Linked DNA regions of Homo sapiens: regions 2 and 3 are each linked to region 1. The links come from fine-mapping of genetic effects on gene expression. A gene starts in region 1. Each other region holds a variant in brackets. All regions are shown on one strand. Distances are from middle to middle. Region 1 holds the start of SLCO2A1 (solute carrier organic anion transporter family member 2A1). Region 2 holds the start of LINC02000 (long intergenic non-protein coding RNA 2000). Region 3 overlaps SLCO2A1 (solute carrier organic anion transporter family member 2A1).

Region 1 (8,178 bases):
CAGTAGACTGTGAGCAGTATGTGGACGGGAGCAGCTTTGCCAACCCCTGCAAAGTGACTCTGAAGAAGACGACAAGCCCTGCTCTAGTCACACCCGGAAGCTGACTGGTCCATGCACGGCCGAAGCATGAGAAAACTCATTGCGGGACTCATTTTCCTTAAAATTTGCATTTTTACAATAAGGACTTCAACTGACCTTCCTCAGACTGAGGACTATTCCCAGTGTATACATCAAGTCACTGAGGTAGGACAAAAGGTTGCTACGGTCCTATTATTTTATGGTTATTATAAGCGTACTGGAACTCTAAAAAGAACTTGTTGTATAATATAATTCTATACAAGGTATGTAGCCCAGGAAATGACCAACCTGATGTGTGTTATGACCCATCTGAGCCTCCCATGACCACAGTTTTTAAAATTAGATTGAGGACTGAGGACTGGTGAGGGCTCACAAATGATATGAGTAAAGTGCTAGCCAAAACAGAAGAAAAAGGGGTGCCCAAACGAGTCATCTTAAAATTTGATGCCTGTGCTGTCATTAATAGTAATAAGTTAGGAATAAGCTGTGGTTCTCTTAATTAGAAAAGAGGCTATATAGCAGAAAATAAGTACATCTGTCATAAATTAAGACTGTGTGGAAAGAAATGTAAATACTGGTCTTGTGTCATTTAGGCCACTTCGATAAAAAAAAAATGAAAAAGATCCAGTCCACCTTCAGAAAGGAAAAAATGGCCCTTCCTGTACTAAGGGACAATGTAACCCCTTAGAGCTAGTAATAACCAATCCCCTTGATCCTCGCTGGAAAAAAGAGGAGCGTGTGACCTTAGGAATCAATGGGGCTGGACTGGATCCTCGAGTAAATATCTTGGTTTGAAGAGAAGTTTACAAACGCTCTCCTAAGCCAGTGTTTCAAACTTTCTATGATGAACTAAATGTGCCAGTACCAGAAATTCCAGGAAAAACAAGAAATTTGTTTTTGCAATTAGCTGAGCATGTTCTCTCAATGTCACTTCATGTTATGTATGTGGAGGAACTGTAATAAGAGATCAATGACCATGGGAAGCCCGAGAATTAGTACCTACAGACCCAGTTCCTGATGAATTCCCAGCTCAGAAGAATCACCCTGATAATTTCTAGGTCCTAAAAGCCTCAATTATTGGACAATATTGCATAGCTAGAGAAGGAAAAGAATTTACTCACCCCATAGGACGACTTCTTTGTCTAGGACAGAAACTTATAATGGTATCACAAAAACAGTCATTTGGTGGAGTTCTAATCACACAGAGAGAAATCCATTTAGTAAATTCCCAAAGTTGCAAACCGTGTGGACCCACCCGGAGTCCCACCGGGACTAGACAGCCCCCACTGGATTATACTAGATACGTAGGCATAGAGCTTACGCCAAATTACCTGACCAGTAGGCAGGTAGTTTTGTTATTGGCACTATTAAACCATCTTTTTCCTACTGCCCATAAAAACAGGCGAACTCCTGGGCTTCCCTGTCTATGCTTCCCGCGAAAAGAGAAGCATAGCTATAGGAAATTGAAAAAATGATAAATGGCCCCCTGAGAAAATCATACAATATTATAGGCCTGCTAGGCACAAGACGGCTTGTGAGGATACCAGACCCCCATTTACGTGATCAACTGAATCATACGGTTACAAGCTGTCTTAAAAATAATCACTAATAAAACCGGCAGAGCCTTGACTATTCTGGCCCAGCAAGAAACTCAGATGAGAAATGCTACCTATCAAAATAGATTAGCTCTTGACTACTTGCTAGCAGCTGAAGGAGAGGTCTGTAGGAAATTTAACCTTTCTAATTGCTGCCTACATATAGATAATCAAGGGCAAGTAGTTGAAGACACAGTTAAGAGATATGACAAAACTGGCACATGTGCCTGTGCAAGTGTGGCATGGATTTGATCCTGGGGCCATGTTTAGAAAATGGTTCCCAGCGCTAAGAGAATTTAAAACTCTAATAATAAGAGTTATAATAGTAATAGGAACCTGCTTACTGCTCCCTTGTTTGCTACCTATACTTCTTCAAATGATAAAAAGCTTCATCGCTACCTTAGTTCACCAAAAAGGTTCAGCACAAGTGTACTATATGAATCACTATCGATCTGTCTTGCAAGAAGACACAGGTAGTAAAAATGAAAGTGAGAACTCCCACTATTGAGTGAGAATCTCAAAGGAGGGGAATAAGGGAGGAGACCACCCCTCATATTGTCTTATGCCCAATTTCTGCCTCCAAAGAAAGAAAAAGTAAAAACTAAAAGGCAGAAATGAAATCCACAAGCAGACAGCCCGGAGCCGCACCCTAGCGCTGGTAGTTAAAGATCGACCCCTGACCTAATCGGTTATGTTATCTATAGATTACAGACATTGTACAGAAAAGCACTGTGAAAATCCCTATTCTGTTTTGTTCCGATCTAATTACTGGTGCATGCAGCCCCCAGTCACGTACCCACTGTTTGCTCAATCGATCACGACCCTCTCAGGTGCACCCCCTTAGAGTTGTGAGCCCTTAAAAAGGACAGGAATTGCTCACTCGGGGAGCTCAGCTCTTGAGACAGCAGTCTTGCTGATGCCCCCGGCTGAATAAACCCCTTCCTTCTTTAACTCAGTGTCTGAGGAGTTTTGTCTGTGGCTCGTCCTGCTACACCACCATGTCATACATGTCCCAAGATATGTGCAACCCATCCCCCACTGCAAAGTGGCAGGGCTATTACAAGCACTCTCATTGGGAGGAAATATCCCTTCAAATAGCAGAGCTCCCAGTTATTGCCCCAGGAGGGAAAGGTGCAAGTGACTTTAACTGATGGAATTTGAGATTCAAGATTTACCTTAAGCTATCCAACCTCGTACCTGGTTTCAGGCTGATAAGTGGAGTTAAATGGAAGTCCTCCAAACTCTGGTCTTGCAATTAGTATGGATCAAAGGAGGTGATGACTAACAGAATCTCATTTTTAGAGTCAAGAAAAACTCTTAGCCAGTATGAGTACTTAACTCCTTTAGGAGGCCAATTGGCCTGAGCCCAGCCCTCAGGTACGTGTGGTTAAATCATCAACACATGAGAAATCATCTTATTTATATAGATCTCCAAATAAATTGCTGCCATAAACATTTATTTTAGGGAACCAGGGTGGGTCTAAACGGATCAGTCTCATTCAGCTGTACCCTCACTGTCAGGAATCTGTTCTGGACACCCGTCCCTCCTGCCCTTCTTGGTGAAAATGAAGTGAGGTTGCCCCACCCTGGTTCCTGCAGAGGCCCCTTTCTTTACACCATCTAATCCTAGTCCCTACCCTTTCATCTCAATTCCTAATTTATAAATACCAAAGGTTCCAAAATTCCTGATGAAATTTCTCCAAAATGGTGGAACCAAAACTGCGCACAACATTTCCATCCAGGTCTGGCCAAAAATGAGGAGATTTGGAGATTATTTTAAGCTATCTCAAAATTTCTGTTGCTTATCCATATACAACTACAAAATCAATTCAGCCTGTATTTATTGCGGTGCGGAAAGAGCAGAAGCAGGAGTGGAGATCCCAGCTGAGTAAGTATGCAGGTGAGATCCACTCTGACCTCCAGATCCCTTTCTGTTGGACACATATAACCAGTCCACGGACACCCCCATCATCCCTTTGTGTAATCTGGCTTCCCCTTAATTGCACCACCGGAGGCTTTACTCAGTCCCATCTGACTGTATGTTTGTGGGAAACAACCTCTCTACACCATGATCCCACCCTGACCAGAAGGGGCCTTGATGCAGTCTCTGCAGTCTCCCACATCCTCACCGCAGCAGCTTTGGCCTCTCAGGAGGTATCTTCCATTGTTACTTCTGCCTAGGCAGAACGGGCAAAAGAGCCCGAGTGCGGATTGAACCATTCCAGGTCCTCCTGGACCTGTGAGGGAGTGGAAAGCATTTCCGACCCCATGGGAAAGGTGCTCTCATCCTAACAGCTGCCAACACCCTATCTTCTCACCCGCTCCCCATAACTTGCCTGGTGAGTGGACCTGCTTAGACCTTACTGAACCGTGAGAGCTGTGACCTTCCTGGGGCCATTTCCAGACCAGGGAAGCCAATCTGAGCACGCGGGTTGGTTGCCAGCCTGGGGAAGCCGCCCGCTGAGAGGGAATTCTAAACATAACTGCGAGCGGCACAGCCAGGTAGCAGAGCCCCCCGCCCCCGTTGGCGGGAGAAGAAAGCCTGGGGAAGGAGAACATCCCTTAGGCCACCCACCCCAGGACGAGGGGGCTCGGACGAGACACAGTCTGTCCCCCAAAGCGCGGGGGGTCCCCCTGGCACCTCCAAGCCCATCCCATTGACGAAGTAACCGCCCGCTGGAGGCCGAAAAAGCGTTCCTCGAGATGATCTTTTTCAATCATCGAGGACAATTCTCTCGCTTATAACTCTGCCTGGAGTTGTCCGAGTAAGCGGTAAGCAGGTACTTCCACTGTCCCATTACTTAGTCCGATGAAGGCGTGTGAACACACACACACACACTCGCACGCACACACACACGCTCACACACACACACGCTCACACACACACTCGCACACACACGCCCAGCACGCGTCGCCCGGGGATGAGATCGGAGCGCGGCACAGGAGGGAGCCCGGGGCTCCCGGAGCCTCCTGGCTCCGGCAGACAGAAGCGGGTGCCCAGCCGAAGGTGCGCCAGGCGCGGCTCCGGCCCGGAAGACCCCGCGGACTCCGCTCACCTTAATGTTGCCGAAGACCGAGCGGGCACAGCGGCCGGCTCGGCTAGTAGAGGTGTCGCTGCCCTGGGACGCGCCGAGCTTGGGCAGGAGCCCCATGGCTGCGGGCGGCTGGCCGGGCGCGGAGTGGCGCGGGGTCGGGGCGCCTCGGGCTGGAGCGGCCGGGCGGGTGAGAGGCGACCGCGGCGGCAGTGGCCGGAGGAGATTCGCGGAGCGGAGACTGAGCCAGCGAGTGCGCGCCTAGAAGTTTTTATAAGTGGCCGCCGCCGATGATGAAACGCGCTCTCCCTCCTCCCTCTTTTCCTCGGGTGTCAAAGGCGCTACGAGCCCCCGCCCCGCCGCCGCCGCCGCCGCCGCCCCCTCAGACAGGTGTGACGCCGCAGCGACCCGCGAGGCTTGACTGCCCCGAGAAGATCCCGCCTGCCGGGAGGCGGAGAGGGAGGGAAGGAGGTGGCGGGCCCGGGGAGGGGAGGTGAGGGCTGTGCGGGGGCAGGAGGTTGCAAGGGGGTGGAGGTTCCTGGGGACTGGCGAAGAGAGGGTGGGCGAAGCGAAGGTGGGTGAGTGGAGGGGATGGAGAAAGAGGTTGGCAGGGCTGGGGGGCAGGAAGGCTGGGATATGAGGGTGCCCGAGGCGGGCGCTGGAGGGGCCAACGTGAGCCGGGGGTGGAGGGGAGCCCCAGCACCCCTCCCGACGTTCTTGGGGAGATTTACGGAGCCAGTCTCTGCTTGTTTGCACTCGCAGAAAACCTGGGCCCTCAGTTCCGGTGATGGCTCTGAGACTCGCTGCAGCTCTGTTTGTGTTGAGGACTGATTTATATTTAAACTGCTCTTTGCGCTGGAGAGGGGGCTGGGTAACAAGGTGAAAAGGTGGGGGCTGGGCCCGAAGTCTCTGGACCTGAGCCAAGGTAAACTGCAGGGGCTGTCAAGTGTCAGCATGGCTGGGTCTGGCCTGGGGTGCTGGGGGGAGGGGTAGAGGGGGTGGGGGGGGTGTGGACAAACAGGACGCACCCCACTGACCTCCTTCTCAGTGCTGGAATGAATAGTGGGTTTATTTTTTCCCCAAGATTTTCTACTAACAGGATTCCAAGCGCCGAGAAGAGACAGTGAGGCTTCTCAAGGGAAGGATAAGAAGGTTCTTCCAAAAGCAGCTGCAGTGAGGAATCCAGCTCTGGAGGCATTTTTCCAGCTCCCTCACTTCTGTAGTCCCGTGCAGAGGGAACCTCTCCAAGCCCACCCCAAACCCAGGAAAAGATGCCGTCAATATCCAGGAGGCTTTGGCTAAGACAAAGGCCACAGGATAGATAGACCACATAGGCTTCTTATTCTACCCAAGACCTGATACCTTTCTGGGCCTGGTCTGGCCTGGCCTGGGCTTGGGGGCTTCTATCCACCTGCGACCCAAGTTCCCTGGACACGGCAGCATTCCAAAGATGTTGAACAGTGGGCAGCCTCTGGCCTCTTCACTCAGCCACAGAGCGAGGTACATCCTGACAGGCTTTCCACAGCACTGTAGCAGCCCCAGCCCCAGCCCCAGAGGAGGCATGAATTCCAGGTCCCATCTGTCCACTGGGAGAACATGGCACACAAGGACAGGTACCAGCATGGAGCACTTGGTGTGTGCTGGGCATACCAGGCCCTCTGCTGAGCACCCACATGCATGATTTCATGAAGCCCCAACGTTAGCCCTACAGGTATAGGTACTGATGGAGTCTGGACTCCACAAACAAGGATGCTAGAGCAGTCGGCTAAGAAAGCTGTCTGAAAGCCACACAGCTAGCAAGTGGTGGAGCTGGACCCTGAATTCAGCCTTGTCTGACTCCTAAGCCCAGACTTGAAGCACTATGCCTTCTGATAAGTTGTCTAGTCCAACAGCCCCATTTTGCAAGTTGAACCAAACAGGGACCAGAAAACCCCCAGGCCAAGGTCACAGACACCTTAGGGCTACCATGCCTGGAGCTTCTTTCTCAAACCCTGAGGCCTCACTGTGATCCTCTGGTAGAACCCCTGGGAGGATCAGCCTCTCCAGCCCTCACCTAGTCCTGTTCCATTAACCTGGCCCTCTGCCTCCCGTCAGCGCCAGCATCATCTCCAAAGGAAAAGCCTATTCAGAAATGCTCACAGATGCTTATCTTCCTTCATTGACCTTTACTGGGTGGAGTTCAGCTAAATGTAATGGAGAGCCAACCAAAATGACTTAAATGAGATTTATTTGTCTCTCAATAATTAGAAGTCTGCTAGTAGGTAGTCCAGGGGTCATGACCTAGGCCCTTCAAGATTCCTTAGCCTGTGGTTCCCATCCCTGTGGCTGGCTCATTGTCACAAGATGGCTGCTCCATCTCCAGCCTCCTCTCCTAATTCCAGGAAAGATGTGGAAGACAGGAAACAGGAAGGGGCCATGCTTACATCAAGGGAGCAAATCTCTCCCTTGCGTGCACAGTTGCTTTTACTTAAGTCTTCTTGGCCAAACCTGGGTCACATAGCTACCCCCTGCAAAGGATGCTAAGAAGTGTAATTAACACTATTGCTGTCCTCTGAACAAAATTGGGGTTTTATTAGGGAAAAAGGGAGAAATAATATTGTGTTTTACATTTTCAACACCTACACATGGAGTAACCCATTTCCTTTCAAGAGCACTCCTAGAGTCGGTCTCCCAGACTTTCCATCCTTAAATTTCAGTAAATATTTCCTAGCACTGAAAAAATACAAAAAATAGGCTGGGCACGGTGGCTCATGCCTCTAATCCCAGCACTTGAGGAGGCTGAGGCGGGCGGATCACTTGAGGTCAGGAGATTGAGACCATCCCGGCCAACATGGTGAAACCCCTTCTCTACTAAAAATACAAAATTAGCCAGGCATGGTGGCAGGTGTCTGTAGTCCCAGCTGCTTGGGAGGCTGAAGCAGGAGAATTGCTTGAACCTGGGAGGCAGAGGCTGCAGTGAGCCAAGGTCGTGCCAGTGCACTCCAGCCTGGGCTACAGAGCAAGACTCTGTCTCAAATAAATAAATAAATAAATAAATAAATAAATAAATAAATAAATAAATTTTAAAAAAAGCTAAACCACAAGAACATCTCCTGACCTCAAAGACTCTATGGTCTCAGGGTGGGAAACAAGAAGAGAAAGTGTGGCTGTGATGTAGGAAGAAAGCTATTGTGCACAGCTGCTATGGGAGCATAGAAGTGGAGCCCTAATGCACCTTGGACAGCAGGAAGACTTCTAGGAGGAGGCGACTGTCAAGCTGAGCCCTAAGAACTAGTAGGATTGAGAGGATTAGGGTAAAGAGGGTAAACCTACTCCATGGTTTCAGTCTGGCTGGAGCTCAAGACCAAGCGCAGTGGGTATGTGTGTGTGAAGCAAAGAGGCTGGGAGTTTAGGTTTTCTCCCCAGCACAATGGGGAGCCGTTAAAGGCTTCTAACCAAGGGTGACCTGGGCTAATTTGCATTTCACATGGACC
Region 2 (8,178 bases), 31 kb after region 1:
AACACAAGCGGCTATGGAAGTGTGAGCTCACAGTACCATCCAGCTAGAAACTGTCCTATAAGGCCGTGCAATGACCGCCGGGGGCCTGAGGGCTGGGTATCAGTGGGGTTGACCAGAGGTAATCCCACTCTCTAAAACCTGAGACAGCGGGGTTACTGCCAGGAGAAGCCCTAGGCCACACTCTAGTGTAGACCATTGACAAACTCAGCTCTTTGCTATGGGGGTTGCAAGTTCCTTGCAGAGCCTATGATGTGTGATGGCTCATGCCAGCGGGTGTAAGCACTAGGTTAGGACCACCAGGTCAAACGTTGATGCCTGGTTCAATTTGAATTTTAGATAAACAACCATTTCTTAGCATAAGGATTCCATACTTAGCAAATATTCCATACTTGGGATATACTTATGATTAAAAAATTATTTATTGTTTATCTAGTATTATTTATTATGTTGAGCTGAGTGTCTTGTATATTTTCACTTGCTAAATCTGGGGCCCAGTTAATTCATTCCACAAGTGAGATGTCATCATGCTGGCATTTCATTTCAGACACACGAAGCATTTCAGTTGGATAAAAGTAAACACCAGCCAAATTTAATGTAAAGATTAAGGTTGGTAAACTGAGTCTAGGTGCTTTATATCAAATGTGTGATTGTTTCTTGGTTTGAGGCTGCAGATGTGAAACATTTAATAGAAGGACTCAAAGAGAGAGAATTCTTACTATTAACTTGATTTCTCCTGTGAATTGGGAAAGACTATCATTGTTTTATCTGAAATGCAGAACATACTCATTCTAACTGGAAGAATGTCAAGAACCCACCAGGATGCATCTTGTTAACACAGGCTGGAAACGCAGATAGTGGCCCAGGAGGGCGGCCTGGGGCAGCCAGCAGGGCAAGCTTCAGGCAGAACTGAACAGTTTACAATGGCCATGAGACAGGGCAGTCAGCGGGGGAGGGGAAGGCCTGAGGCTGCACAGCACCTATAAAAGGTGGGAGAGTGTGAGAGTGCATGTGTGTGTGAGCATGTGTGAGAATGTGAGTGTGTGAGTGGGTGTGTGGGGGTGTGTGTGAGAGAGAGAACGAGAGAGTGTATGTGAGTGCGAGTGAGCGTGTGTGTTTGAGAGAGTGAAAGTATGTGTGTGAGAGACAGAGAAAACGAGTGTGAGCATGTGAGTGTGTGTATGAGAGTGTGAGTGAGTGTGCGAGTGTATGTGTTTGAGAGTGTGTGTGAGAGAGAGAAAGAGAGCGAGAGAGCGTGTGTGTGTGTATGTGTGTGTGGTGTTGGCACTCTGGAGCATGCAGAGTCCATTATGAGTGTGCAGCAGGGTCCAGGCACACTCAGACTTGGGAGCAGGGGGAGCTGGGGATCCATAACCCAGGGGAAAGCTGGGTCTGCTGCCATGGCCTTTGCAGGAGGGACCCTACAGGGAGCAGGCAGGGCCTGTCTGAAGGGTTGAAGTCTCAGGCTGAGAAGCAGGGGTTGATTACCCTGGGAGAAGCCTGTCAGATGATTGGAGCCCAATTGGAAGTGGTTGGGGCCTGTCCAGTTGGCTGGGGCCTGCCTGGCACCTGACCAGGCATGAAGGGACAGTGAGGGCAGGAATGAAGTGGCCAGGGAGGGCCAGGAAGGCATCTCTGGGTGGACAGAGGTGCTGGGAGCTATGCTGTCTGGCATAGGCTGTTATTATGTAGGATGGAAATTTAGCTCCTACCTCTACCTGCTGTTGGCCAATCAGCCAGATGTCTCCCATCAATACTTGGCCTGAAAGCTGGCTCTCACATGAATCGTCTCTTTGGATGAATCATGTCTCTCCTCGGAAGCTGCTTTCTCATCAGCCCAAATGACAGGACCCAGAGAGTTACAGCTTGGTGTGCTTGGGGAAGTCACAGCTTCTCTCCTGGATGGGCTGGCTGATCACAGCAATTGGCATGGATCCACAGGCAGTCCCTGAACCTAGAATGTCTCCATGCAGGATCACCTGCCTTGGCCCTGCACCCTCACGATAGTGCCTGAGACTCGGGCACACATCACACCAGTCCTGCCTCACCTTTCTCAGGGAGTCTGAAAGTGAAAATAACTGGCAAGAAAAGTGAAACTGCTTCTCCTCCCTCCCTGGGGGAAGGGACAAGGAGCAAGCAGCAAGCCTAAGTGGCCGAGGAGGCAAAGGTCAATTTGTGCCCCTTGAAATGGAAACCCAGAGGAACCTTTGCGACTTCCTCATTCCTAGTCTCATCAGCTGTTCCTGAATGGCTCTGGTTCCTGGAACACAGCAGGCCCCAAAGGCTATCATTAGAGCCCTGTCAGCCAGGTGACCCTGGTGGCCTGCCCCGCCCATTCTACATGAAGGCCAGCTGAGCTGCTGAAGGTAAAGAGAGTGGCTGCGCACACGAGCCACAGGCAGAATCACATACACACTTGGACATGCGTGGCCATGAACAGGATCAAACACACCTGCATACATGCATCCATTCTCAGGTGCACACAGCTAGAGACACCCTCACCCACAGCTCTCCGACACCACACACACACACACACACACACACACACACACACACACACACACAGCTCTCCCTAGGTACAAGCCCACACAGACACACATAAACATGCTTTCCCCCCAGCCCTGCCTGCGTAGCATCTCTCCTGGCACAAACACACAGGCGCCCATGGCCACGGGACATAGCGCACTCTTGCATGTACACCTTTTCCTGTCCACACACATGCCCAGTTGCCCAGTTCATAGACACACAGTCAGCTGTGCAGCTGCACAGCTGGCTATGTGTCCTCTGGACAAGAACACCAGCTTCTCCCTCCCCTCCAGTCTGGAAATGGCCTCCACCACGTCTCCGTTGGGCAGCAGAGCAGTGCCCCATAACTGCATTTTGTCCAGTTTGCACTGACCCAAAGGGCACTTGAGATCCAGGCCCTTCAAAGCTCAAGCCAACCATTTGCTGGCTGCTTTTCCCATGTGGGTTTAAATGCAGAGTGGCTACCTGGGCTCTCTGGTATTGAGAAAGTTTTCATTTCCATGCTAGAGAGGCTCTTCCAAGCTGCGATAAACACAGGCACACTCCAGTTACTTTGAGTCACGAATGTTTATTGTAAAGGAGAAAGGACAGACAGATGGGCAGGACACTATCAGTGCAGTTAGGACATAGGGTTTAGGATTCATTCAAAGGCAGCCTTAACAATGAAGATAGCTGGCAATTGTTGAGCATTTCCTCTTCCTGAGTGCTAGGCATGGCCCCAGATACTCTGTGTGCTTTATGCTGGATGCTGGCAACAGTCTCTTGGAACAGGTTGTCATCAGCATCCCGATTTGAGGAGGAGGACGTTACGGCTTAGAGAGAGAGGTTTGTAACTTGCCCAAGTCCCACAGCTAGTAAGTTCAGGGCTAGGGTGCAAACCTAGCTGTCAGGAGCCCATCAATGTACCCCAGGAAAACCACTCTGCAGAGGAGACCCTCTATTTTGCTACTGCCCAGATGCTGGCATCCATGGCTCCTGCCCTGGGGGATCTGTCATTCTTATGACACGGCTTCCCTCTGTGTCTCTCTCTGCTTCCCACTCTCCTTCTCTGCTTCTCACTCTGCGTGTCCCCAGTTCAAAACTCCCTGAGAAGCCCTTCAAGGTCAGTTGGATTTCAGCACATGTAGAACCACTCTGAGGCAAAGGAAAGTAAACACTTGCCTAGCTAAACCCACGTGCCTGGGGCTGCCTCACCAGCTAATGGCTGCCTTTGGGTGGGACAGTCAGCTGCCATCTGGGCAGCAGGTCACAGCCCATATAGGACCCCTGTGGGTGGAACAGACATCTACAGACCACAGAATGTCTGATGTGCTTTCAAATACTGTTATTGGAAATCTTTACTGAACATGTTTCTTATATTCCTGACTTTGTAAGATTTATCTAGTACACATAATTGAACTTTTTAAAATTGGTCCGGATTGTATGACTCCCAGGATATCATTCTGAATTCCAACTGGATCAGGCCACAAAAGTAGGAGGTATGGAGAGCTATTTTGTGGTGACAACCAGGAAATTCCCTAAACGTCTTTTAAAAATACATTCCTGCTTGGTTATTTGCCCTCATTTTAATGTGGAGGCAACAATGAGAAGGAAAAGTCCCTGGCAATGGGCTCCAGGGAACTTCGACTTCATGGTGGAAGCTGCAAATGCAGGCAGGTCCCAGCAGATGTGGCTCCCTTCTCCCAGGTGCTTCCAGGCAGGCTGCTGAGAACCATCTGCCCTGGGGGTCTTCCAGGGACTCCTCAGACATGTGGGCTCCGGGCCAGCTCCTTTGTTGCCTCCCTACCCTGGAGCTGCCTCCACTGATAGAGGACAGAAGATGGATGTCTCTGGTCGCTCCAGCCCCACAACACCCACAAACACAGGCTGCTAATCCAGTCTTGGAACTGTCAGGAAAAGCCCATTTTCATTTGATCCTTTGCACAAATAGATTAGAGGCCACCGACCTTGACGTCTGAGCATTGTTCAGCTTGTGTTAGAAAACATCCATATTTAGGGCGGTTGGGAGAGGCACGGAGGAGGGAGCAAAGGTCCAAAACACTCACTGAGAAGACTTGACCAGGACTGAACATTCACACCCAAGCTAAAGTCTGAACTCTGAGCGCCATCCTATGTCAAAAAGGATTCCCTGTGGACCTGAAACACCCAAAACCAGCAGCTACTGGGGAATGAATGCTTTTCCAGGATCATCAGCTCCTTTTGGGCTCATCCCTTCCATGCTGACTGAGCTTGGGTGGCTGACCTTTTGTTTTCTTATATGTGGGAGGCAATTGAGAGCAAGGCTGTGAGGCTGGAATT[C/CA]AACCCCTCTCCCCATGGCCCCAGGGTGTGTCCATGTGGGGCTGCCAGATACACAGGAAAGGAGAGAAGAGCTGGGAAATGTTGACTCTGGATTTTAGGCAGCCTGGGTCCTCCCTTTTTCCTAAATCAGGACCCAGTCAAGTAAGGAGATTGCCTCTGACCATGTGCTGCAGCTTGACAGTAACATGACAATAGACCAAAACCCACAGTTACTCGAGGCAAACCTAGATTTTTAAGGGGAGTGTATGTGGGTGGCCTTATTTTACTGAGAAAAACCTTGTTTTGTTTATATTTTTCCCCTTACTTTGCAGAAGAAATAAGATCCCTTCTACCAAGGTTGTCCGTGATTTCTACTTCATTACTTGACTTGGAAACTCTCCCAAGAGGGTTGATATTCACAGTGTTGACATGTCGGTCTTGTTCTCCTGACCTTTAGCCTATATTGTTGACCAAAGCTGTTTAAAGGGCTCCCTGTGTGAAAGGAAGCTGGGGTCGGGTGATTCTCGGGAAGGCAAGAGAACAACACCCCATCTCATGACTAAATCAAAACTCAGCTCAGGACAGGAGGATCTAGGGCTGAGTGGCTGCAGCAGAGAGATGATCCCTAAGTGGAGAAGCGAGTCTGGCCCTGGCCAGCAGCCTCCCGGAGCCCTTTGCCCTCACACGGGTGATCTGAGCATCTGTGGCTCAGAGGTGATCACTTGACACAAGCAGATCTCCCAACCCAAGGAAGCCAGCGTGTCCATACAGGACATCCAGAGTGTGAGGAAGGACGAGGGAGTTTGGGCCCTGGGCCCTGGGTGCCTACCCAGCCATATTCAGGGAATTCAGCCTTCTTCTCTCTTCTGCCAATGATGAAAAGGAGAGAAGAGGCTAAACTTTTCCTCTCAATCAATGCGACCAAGGCCCTTCCAGAAAGCTCCTGCTTGTGCAACGTGGTGTGTTCCTGAGGGTCCCTGCTTAGGGACAGCCTAAGGTGCTATGGGGACTCGTTTTGAGCTACCAGATCTTTCAGGCTGAGAGACCTAGCTGGAAATCTCCAGGACCAGGGAGGCAGGGGCTGGATGGCAGGGGTTGGATGTTTGAAGCAAATGTGTATGCAGAAGGGTCTGAGTGGGAGAGAAGTGAGCAGCGTGGTTCTCTGGGCGTGCTGACATCTGTTGCATTCTGTCCAGGCGTACTGTCTTAGTTTCCCAGGGCTGCCATAATGAAGTACCTCCAACTGCATGGCTTCAAAAAGAAATTTCTGTCTCACGGTTCTGGAGGCTGGAAGTCCAAGATCGGGGTGTTGGCAGGATCCGTTTCTTTTGAGCCCTCCCTCTTTGACTGGTCGATGATCACTTTCTTCCTATTTCTTCATGTTATCTTCCTTCTGAATGTGTCTGTGTCCAAAATTCCTCTTCTTATAAGGACACCAGCTATATTGGATTAGAGCCCACCCTAATGACCTCATTTTAACTTAATTACCTCTGTAAAGATCCTGTCTTCAAATATGGTCACCTTCTAAGGTGTACTGCAGGTGAGGACTTCAATGTATGCATTTCGGGGGAACACAATTTGGCCTGTAACATCTACCTAGAGCAGAAAGCATCTTATCCCAAATGAGCAGCTTTGCAGCCCTGCCGCCAACCGAAGCCATTTCACCCATAAAGGCACAGTCCTATACTGCTCACGAAGCATTTGCACTTGTGATTTCTCCTTTAATCTCTCTGACCCTTCTGAAGTCAGCAGAGAAGACATTCTTGTCCCATTTCACAGATGAGAAGAAAGAGTTCCTGAGAGGTAAAGTATGTGGCCTTGAGCCCCACTGCCAGGAAGTGAGAGAGCTGAGCTGAGACGTGGTATCTCAGTCTGTTATCTCTTGCTATAACAGAGTACCAGGCTGGGTAATTCATAAAGAAAAGAAATTTATTTCTTACAGTTCTGGAGGCTGGGAAGTCTAAGAGCATGATGCCAGCATCTGGTGAGGGGCATCCCATGGCAGAAGGGCAGAAGGTGGAAGTGGGCATGTGAGACAGAGAAAGGAAATTGGCTGAATTCATCCTTTTTATCAGGAACCCAAAACAGTAATAATCAGCATTAATCCATTCACCATCATGACTTAATCTCTTAAAGGTCCTGCCTCTCAACACAGCTGCTTTGAGGATTATGCTTCCAACACATGAATCTTGCGGACACAGTCAGACTGTAGCACCCAGCCTCCTCACTCCTCCTGCAGAGCTCTTTCAAACTCACTGGGTCTGGACCAGAACATTCCCCCTCAAGGAGGGAAGAAAATATTTCATCTGAGAGCTTCCCATCCAAATCAGGTATGGTGACACTCTGCTTGTCCTGTTTAATTTGCCAGAGCTTTACCACAACATTTATTTGTTAAATAAAGTTGCTGCTCTCTGATGTTAGCCCGAGTCCACTGCTGTAGGCCAGGCACTCTTCTAGGCACTTCATCTGCATTATGTCTCATAGTAGTCCAGTGAAATCATATTTGTGGATGAGAAAGTGGGAACATAAGGAGGTAAAATAAAGCACCTAGTTAGTGCTGGAGGGGTAAACTGAACTCAGATAAGAGTAAGTTAGAATCCCTTGTTCTTTGCAGGGTAGTGGTCTCTGATAAATTTATTAATTCAATAAGTATCTGTTAAAGATAGCTTTATGCTAAGCACTGTTGAAGGCTACTCCAGACGCTTAGGATCAATCAGTTTACAAAACACACACTGGTCCCTAGCCTTGGGGAGCTTATATTCTACCAGGAGGAGACAAATAATAAATATGAGTAAATTATGTTACATATTAGAAAGTGAAAAGTGCTATGGAGAATACAGGTGCAAGGCAGGGGTGATCAGAAATACTGGGGGTGAGGGAAAGTTGCAATATGATACAGGGTGGTCAGGAAGTCCTCAAGGAGAAGGTGACATTTAAGTAGTGGATTAGGAGTCCAGCAACCTGCATTCCTGCATCAACTCCAGCTTGGTTTCTCAGTGTACTTGAAAAATGACTTCAGCCAGGCGTGGTGGCTCATGCCTGTAATCCTAGCACTTTGGGAGGCCGAGGCAGGTGGATCGCTTGAGGCCAGAAGTTCAAGATCGGCCTGACCAACATGGCGAAACCCTGTCTCTACTGAAAATACAAAAATTAGCCAGGTGTCGTGGTGTGTGCCTGTGGTCCCAGCTACTCAGGAGGCTGAAGCAGAGATCACTTGAACCCAGGAGATGGAGATTTCAGTGAGCTGAGATCGTACCACTGCACTCCAGCCTGGGTGACAGAGCGAGACCCTGTGAAAGAAAAAAAGAAAGAAAGAAAGAAAGAAAGAAAGAAAGAAAGAAAGAAAGAAAGAAAGAAAGAAAGAAAGAAAGAAAGAAG
Region 3 (8,178 bases), 75 kb before region 1:
ACCTGTGCCCAGTATTCATATGCTTTGTCTCATTCCTCACAACGCTTTCCCATACTGCTACTCTAATTAGCTGGAGCACTGTAAAGAAGAGGAAGCTTAGGAACAAAGAAACTTGGCGAAGCTCACTCAGCTAGTTCATTGTTTTTTATTTTTTATTTTTATTTTTTTAGAGACAGGGTCTCACTCTGTCACCCAAGCTGGTGTGCAGTGGTGCAGTCATAGCTCACTGCAGCCTCGAACTCCTGGGCTCAAGTGATTCTCCCACCTCAGCCTCCCAAGTAGGTGGGACTACATGCACTCAACACCATGCTGAGCTAAGTTTTTAAAATAATTTTTTTTTTAGAGATGGGGTCTCGCTATGTTGCCCAGGGTGGTCTTGAACTTCATTCCTTCCCTACCCACCAATCTCAACCTGGGCTCAAGCAATCCTCCTGCCTTGGCCTCCTAAAGTGTGAGATTATACACCTGGCCAACTCAGCTGGTTTATAAGTAGCAGAGCTTCATTCAAACCCAGGTCTGCCTGACCCCAGCACCTGCATGATGTGTAGCCAACGTCTGAAATTCTTCCCCAAGACAAGCTGAGGTCCTCCCACCCCTGCCCCTCTCCCCCCGGCTGGGCCTAGATTTTATATACCTCATTGTCAAACATTGAGCTCTATTTTGGGACTTGAAGCCTAGGCATAAACTTTAGCTCCTTCTTCTCCTCCAAGCCAGCTCACTGCTGAGTCCTTCTGGGCATCCACCCTAGGAATGTCTATCCTTATCTTTGCCCTGTCCCAGCTCTCCGACAACCATTGCTGCATTCCCCATCTCTCACCTGGTCTCTGCACTGGCCTCTTCAGATCTCCAGCCTCCATTCCTTCCCTACCCCCTAAACTCAACCTAGCTGCCATATTGCCACCCAAGTGGCCACCCAGTCACTGCAGTGCTCTAGAACTTCATGGAATTAGAACAATCTTTAGACCCTTCAGCTGAACATCAAGCCCCTACCCAGACTTCTCTTCCTTGCTCTCCGTTCTCATCCTTCCCTGATTCCTTTCCCCAGCAGGCGTGACTGGAAGATGCTTGGAAGGTCCTCTGCTCAAAATATGCTCCAATTTCAGCCACCCTCAACACTGTTCAATGCTAGGAATCCCTTCCTACTCAGTTTTTCAGGTTCAAACACTGAACACTGATAGGCCCTATTAAATGTAAAAGTTGACTGTACCAGGTCGCAGACTTGGCCTTTATTGGCTCTTAATTCTTTAGCTCAATTTAGATAAGCTCAGTGTTTCCCAAACTGTTCCCTGGAGGTCTCCTGATCCTTGACATGCTAACATGGTACGGGAACACATAGGAGATACCACCTTTTGGAAATTCACCAACACCCTCACCTCTTAAAGCCTCTGGGAAGTCCTGCATCATGAAATTTGTTTAGATTTCACCCTGAATTTGCTTAACATGCTGCAGCTTTTTAGCTCTATTTATTTTCTACCCCCACATCCCTTTCTTCAACTCCATCAGGTAGAGTCATGGGCTCTTGGAACCTTACCTTTGCTCCTATGGGCATTGCTCGAGGGAAGAAAAAAAAGGGGAAAGAGGTGAGAACCAATAAAGCTGAAGAAATGAGCAGGCCTAGCCACCAGGCTCCAATCCATCGGGGGTCACCCGGGACCAAGTTAACTGCAGCTGAAGAGAAAACGAAGAGTGCAAATGTTTGTTGAATGCATGATCTCACCTTACTGGAAACAGAACCTCTGATCAGGGGGAGTTTCACTGATTTTCTTCCCAGGATGCAGAAGAGGCAAGCCATGAGCTAGATTCTTGGTCAAAACAACATTCCCTCTCCCAGCTATTGGTCTTCCCAGAGGACCAAGGCCACTGCACATGAAGCACAGCATCAGAAAATCCCCGGGCAGGAGGGAGCAGTACCTTCACCTCCTTATTCAACTCCCAGCCCTTGGCAGAAGTAGTGAAGAAGGGAGCTGACTCTCACTCACAAGGGCACACCATGGGCCAGACTCTAGACCACGTGCTTTCCATCTGTTTTCCACTGGGTTCTCTAGCAAGTCTGCCCACCTCTCACCAGTCAAGAAACTGAGGATAGAAGGGGTTAAGTCCCTTGCCTCAGGTAAAGGCTAGTAAGTGCCATTTCATTGGTCAATTTCAAGCCTGTGTCTCCCTGGTATGCAAACCTGCCCTCTTAACCATTAAACTACTGCCTCCCAACTTTATGGATCCCTAACAAAGGAGGCCCCATAATCCTTAGAAGCCTAAAGAAACAACCATCAACTGTGTGAACTGCCTGGCTTCCAAAGGAGCAGCTTTCTCTTGGCAATTCTCTTGCACACGTGTAAAAGTCTGCCATTGTGTTTCTCTGTGTAAAGAAACTATCCGGGCATAAAGGGAAGGAGAAGGTGGCAGAACGGTTCAGTCAAATCATGACAAGCTTCCCTGGGCACTGCCCTGAGTGGACTGGGCACTCAGTTGCTGGTCTCTTTGGGCAACCAAGAGCCAGGAACCAATTCGGGGAGTGCCAGCAAAAGGACAGGGATGGCTTGATCCTGAGGCATAAGACACCCCCTGGCTTTCTACTTTCATTGGAAGTACAGCCAAATGACACCATGCAGATGGCACTGTGGTCTGACAGTCTTAGGGACGGGAGTCTAGGCTCTAGCAGCATGGTTGCAACTAGCACCTGCCAGATATCTGTGACGTGACTTGTTTGCAGGGCAGTGGTGGGAGTGCTCTTCCTGGAGTCTGGCTCAGTCCTGCCTTTCAGCCACCCCTTCAGCCGAGCTGGAACTTCGTATCCCACCCACACACTCCCCACATTCTCCACCCTACAGCACTTTGCCTGTCCCTCTGTTGTGGTGCTGACCTTCCCCATCTTGTGGGAGACTGGGTAGTGTGGGACACACTCTCAAAGGCAGGAAGCCCTTGCTCCATTCATCCTGGGGCTGGCTCCCTGAATGGTTAACTCAGAACTTATGCTGGTGTCTAGGGACTATATATTCTCATCCATACCACTTGTTGAAGAATACGAACTCATACTGTTGACTTCTTAATATACATTAGGCTTGTTCTGATCTTTAAAACAACTTTATTTTACTATCATTAGCTCCATTTTACAGATGAGGAAGCTGAGGCACAGAAAGACAAAGTTACTTGCCTAAGATCACTTGGCTAGTAAGAGATGGAGCCAGGATGAGACCCAGGCAGTCCCGTCCCAGCGCCCACACAGTCAAACACCATGTTATACCCTCTGGATGTGAGTCATCATCCGTGTGTATATTTTATATGATGTTTCTTTTTTTTCCTCAAAAGAGCTCTTATTAAATCTTAAAGAACCAGCAACATCTTAGAATCAAAGAACCATAGAATTTTTTTTTTTTCTTTCAGACAGAGTCTCACTCTGTCGCCCAGGCTGGAGTGCAGTGGCATGATCTCGGCTCACTGCAAGCTCTGCCTCCCAGGTTCACGCCATTCTTCTGCCTCAGCCTCCTAAGTAGCTGGGACTACAGGCATCTGCCACCACGCCCGGCTAATTTTTTTGTATTTTTAGTAGAGACGGGGTTTCACCGTGTTAGCCAGGGTGGTCTTGATCTCCTGACCTCGTGATCCACCCGCCTCAGCCTCCCAAAGTGCTGGGATTACAGGCTTGAGCCACCGCACCCAGCCCATAGAAATATTTTTAATGCCACCAAGATGGGCGCTGTGGTGGCAACACCTGAGGTCCTGCCCTGGGTCTCCAAACTTCTTAAGGGCAGAAAGTGAGTTTGCTTCAGCAGCTTGTTCCTCACAGTGGCCAGCGTGGGCCCTGAGAGAGGAGGCACACACTGTCTGCTCCTGGCTCTCCGAGGGACTGCAGGGATGAGTGAGCGAGTGAGGAGGTGGCAGAGCGCATCTGGAGCTGAAGCTTCATTCTCTGTTCTGATTGGATGAGGGGGCTGGGGGCTGCTTTATTGAGCTGGGGATGGGAATGGGTGTCCTCTGCACATACTCACCTGTGTTGACCCTGCCATAGTCCACAAAGATCTGCAGCATGACAGAGCCCAGCAGGTACCCGAAAGCCGGTCCAAATACAGAGATGGCAAATAAGATGGCTGGAAAAGGAAGTAAGGGGAAGGAGACTGAGATAAATGGAGAGAGTTTGGCAGCCTTGGGCTCCCAAGCTGAGGGGGAGTCTTGAGATATCACTTCATCTGTTCCCAAGCCTGATAAGCCCACACCTGTGGCATCTCCCACCAGCAAGGCCAGAACCACTCAAGATTCCAAGACATATAGAACCAAGGCTATTTCTTCCTCCAGCCAACTTCCAAAGAGACCTGCTTGCCAGGAAGGAAACAGGCTCCAAGGCATTTAAAAATGCCAGGTGATGCTCCCTGTGGGTACGATGCTGGGGGCCCTCGGAGGAGCTCATGGTGCCACAGAGCCTGTGGGGGTGGTCTGTGTGGTCTGGAGTATAGGCCCTGAGGATGCTCAAAGTGGTGTGTTCTTTTTTTTTTTTTTTTTTTTTTTTTTTAGATGGAGTTTCACTCTTGTTGCCCATGCTGGAGAGCAATGGTGCAATCTTGGCTCACTGCAACCTCTGCCTCCTGGGTTC[G/A]AGTGATTCTCCTGCCTCAGCATCCCAAGTAGCTGGGACCACAGGTATGCGCCACCATGCCCAGCTAATTTTTTATTTTTAATAGAGACGGGGTTTCTCCATGTTGATCAGGCTGGTCTCGAACTCCCGGCCTCAGGTGATCCGCCTGCCTTGGCCTCCCAAAGTGCTGGGATTACAGGCATGAGCCACCACGCCCGTCCCAAAGTGGCTTGTTCGAAGGGAAGGATTTGGGCATTCACGTGGTCATCTGCTATCTGCTTTGCATGGGCTTCTTTGAGGCCAACCTGCTCCTAAGTGGATGTCTCAGAGAAGATATGTGTGTCCTGGCCTGTGCCTGAAGGACTAGTCAGAGAGCAACAGTAGGTGCTGTTGGTTTAGGGTCCATCCAGTGCCCAACACCAGCTAAGTGGTTACATATGCCATCTCATGTATCCCACAGCCATCCAGCGCACAGATAATATCAGCCTCCTCCTGGAGGTGAGAAACCTGGGGCCCTGGGGTTCAGCCATTTGCCTCAGATCACACAGCTGGGAGGTAATGGAGCTGACATTCAAACCAAGTCTGTCGGATCCCCAGGCCTCTGAACTCATTTGCTGGGTTGTAAGCAAAGAGGGTGGGACCTCAGTTTAGTGCCCCAGGGCCTCATCAAGTGCTACATCAGGACCTCACCCCTCCCCAAAGCCCTCTTCAAGCCGGTGACTCACAGATGTACAGGGGCGAGTTGCTGGGCTCTGAGAAGTCATCCACATAGGAGATCCCAAATGGCTGAATAGGCACTGTCCCGATGCCAGCCAGCAGCTGGGCAACCACCATCAGGCCCCACATGCTGCTGGTCTCCTTCTGGGGGTTCTGGGTGGTGCTGTGGCACTTACTGGGAGGCAGGTCCTGCCAATGCTTCTGGCAGAGCTCGGCCTGCAAGCGGCTGTTGTTCCCTGCAACGAGAGTGCTTGCTGGTCTCCACCACCCTGGTCTCCTGGTTCCACCGGCTGGCCTCCAAACCCGGCCTTTCTCCCAGGCCCCTTGGGGAAGGACCAACTTTGGCCAGAGGCTGTGCTAGCAAATGGGACATGGTTCCTGAGGACCGCGTCCTTCTGTCTGGCCAGCAGGAGGGACTCTAGAAACAAAGGTGTGAAAGAGAGGTGGAATGTGGGCTCCCCGGCCCCAGGAGCTGCTATTTCTCAGGTGGAGAGGAATCTTCCTCTCGTGAGTGTCCATGCCTTCTCCTCCATGGGCACTGGTGGGGAGCTGAGCACGGAGAAGTCAGTACCTTCATCTGTGGAGGAAAGGGGCACCCAGCTGGAAAAGGGGGAGGGGGTCCAGGGTCAAAGCCCAGGCCCGTCGGCCTCCAGCACCCTGTGCTCAGCCCTGGGGCTCTGGGCCCCCAGGGTTCTCTTCAGCAGGACAGAGGTCATGCTGTTGCACCGGGTTGGTGTCACCTACAACGTGGGTTGAGTCCCTGGTTGTGACTCCCAGGGCCTTTGCTTCTTAGTGAGCCCAGCTCCAAGTCACACTGGAAGACCTACTGCCAAAGACATTTAATATCCTTACCGTTCCGGGGAAGCTCCCAGAACTTCTGATGCTGGAGGGGCTTTAAGACCCTCTCGTTCAGCCTCTCATATTACAGATGGGGAAGCTGAGGCTGCTTCTCGAAGCCCTTCTGTGAGGGTCCCAGACACCCTGGGTGAGGCCTGTGGGCACTATGGTTCCTGTGGCTGTGGCCCTTGCCAGGCTGGGCTGCCGCTTCCATGCCTCTGTTTTTAATTTGGCCCACACTAAGCAATCAGCATTGGCAGCTCTCCAAGGCCTTAGGGGTTCTCGAGGGCTCCTTTCCATGAGATCCCCTTTCCCTGTCTCATTCAGGCTAATGGAAACCACTGACGTCACCAATCTCACTCGCTTAACACTAATGGGATTCCGTTTAATTCTCACTTGTGCTGCCCTGAGCTAGGTGAGCCTAAGTCCCACAGAGAGGAAAACCGAGCGCCGTAGACTAGCCCTGCTCCTCACACTGGACTCTGCCGGTGCTGTTGGGCTCAGGGCTGCCCTGGATGGTGGGGCTGGGGAGAGGGGTCTGTGCTCTTCATTGCCCTTTCCCCTCTCCCCAGTCGCACACGCCTCGTCCAGCCTGGCCCCACTGTTGTCTGCCCTCTCCAGTGGTGTCTATGCAGGACACATTAGAAAGTTGCTGTCATGGGAGCTCCCCCATCAGTCAGGGAAGCCTGTCCCAGGAAAAGGAAAGGAAGCCAAGGCGTCTGTTTGGTCAGGGTCATCTAGACCTTCAATAGTTGTGTCCGTGGAAGGAAGCATCCTGGCAAGCAGCCAGGGACTGTAGTCAGGGTCCCTCTGTACCTCCCTCTTCCCACTCCATGTTCATTATCCTGCCTTTCAATGCAGAATTCAAATAGAGTGGCCCGACCACATGGTGATATAATATGCAACCTTTTAGAATTGGGGTGAAAATATAGCCTTTTTTTTACACAGAAAGACAGCTGGAACAGCTTGTTAGAATAAAAAAATAGTAACTAGTAGCTTGGAGAAGAATATGTTCCCTAATTTATAAAACGTTTGTGGACTACTTGAATATGCAGAGAAAACCTCTGGAAGATGATGGCTCTCTCTGGGTGATGAGATTGTGCTGATCTTTTTTTATTTGCCTCATTTATTTTGTAATTTGTCTGGAATGAACACATTTCTTTTGTGTTAAAAGAAATACTTTTGAAATAAAGCAACAAAGTTTTTAAATTCAAGGTTTTTGTAAATAAATATATCCAAAGCTTAACAACGTCTCTCCCATTTCTTCTTTGTCCCATTCCCATTGCCCTTCTTTCTGCTCTAGGCTCTAGGCCTGCAACAGTGGAGCTGAGTCTCTGCCCATCCCCACCAACCACAACCCATCGCTGACGTCACCGATCTTGCTCACTTAACACTGATGGGATTCAGTTTAATTCTCACTTGTGCTGCCCTGAGCTAGGTGAGCCTAAGTCCCACCAGAGCCCACCACCACCTCTCCCCCGTGGAGTGTTGGGCCTCTCTCTGATTTACAGGCTCTACCGTAGAGATCCAAGTCCTAGCACCAGAAATGTCAAACACCCATGTACTGACAGGGCCAGGCCCTGTGCCAAGGTTGTGATGTATGTGGTCTCCTGCTCACAGGGGTTACTGTGAGCAGGAGACTACATAAGACCATACCTAAGTAGCTGGTTTGGGGGTAGAGCTGGGATCCGAACCTGCATGTGTCTGACTCAAAGTCCAAACTGAAATCAAGTCTGATGGCAGCTTGAAAAGACAGAACACACATTTTTCAGGGATGGAAGAACATGGCATGGGAAGATTTCCTCCATCCCTAGCCACCTTCAGACATATGAGCTCTCTGACCTCTGTAGGTGGCTGGGACCTTACACCTACTTCCTCTCAGGAAAGGGGCTGGCTGCTGGGATGTGTGCTAGAATCTGGGACAATAAGATGAAATAAACACAGTACAGGGAGTTAAGAAATTGGCTTTATCCCTAGGTAAGATAAAAATTGGTTTTATCCCTATGTATTCTTGAGCAAGTTTCTAAATGTCTCTGAGCCTTAGTTTCCCTTGGCGTAGA

Evidence for each region. PIP is the estimated chance that this variant, and not a neighbour inherited with it, causes the effect. A credible set is the group of variants that fine-mapping cannot tell apart.
Region 2: its variant is the best candidate, but not a certain one, in a credible set for the expression of SLCO2A1 in tibial nerve (GTEx, PIP 0.50).
Region 3: its variant is the best candidate, but not a certain one, in a credible set for the expression of SLCO2A1 in tibial nerve (GTEx, PIP 0.88).

The regions. Positions count from the first base shown.
Region 1 is chr3:134,024,978-134,033,155 of GRCh38, forward strand. SLCO2A1 (solute carrier organic anion transporter family member 2A1) reads right to left here and starts at 4,948. Exons shown (of 14, transcript NM_005630.3): 1 at 4,730-4,948. The coding sequence starts at 4,825. RefSeq lists an enhancer at 4,943-5,443.
Region 2 is chr3:134,055,701-134,063,878 of GRCh38, forward strand. It overlaps LINC02000 (long intergenic non-protein coding RNA 2000), which reads right to left and starts at 1,948. Exons shown (of 2, transcript NR_135574.1): 1 at 1,710-1,948. RefSeq lists an enhancer at 390-1,196. The variant C/CA (reference allele first, on the strand shown) is at 4,822.
Region 3 is chr3:133,949,677-133,957,854 of GRCh38, forward strand. It overlaps SLCO2A1 (solute carrier organic anion transporter family member 2A1), which reads right to left. Exons shown (of 14, transcript NM_005630.3): 4 at 5,290-5,517; 5 at 3,987-4,085; 6 at 1,532-1,668. Among named protein-coding and RNA genes, the nearest start is that of C3orf36, 24 kb to the left of the region's middle. RefSeq lists enhancers at 1-413, 5,947-6,478, 6,479-7,008. The variant G/A (reference allele first, on the strand shown) is at 4,586.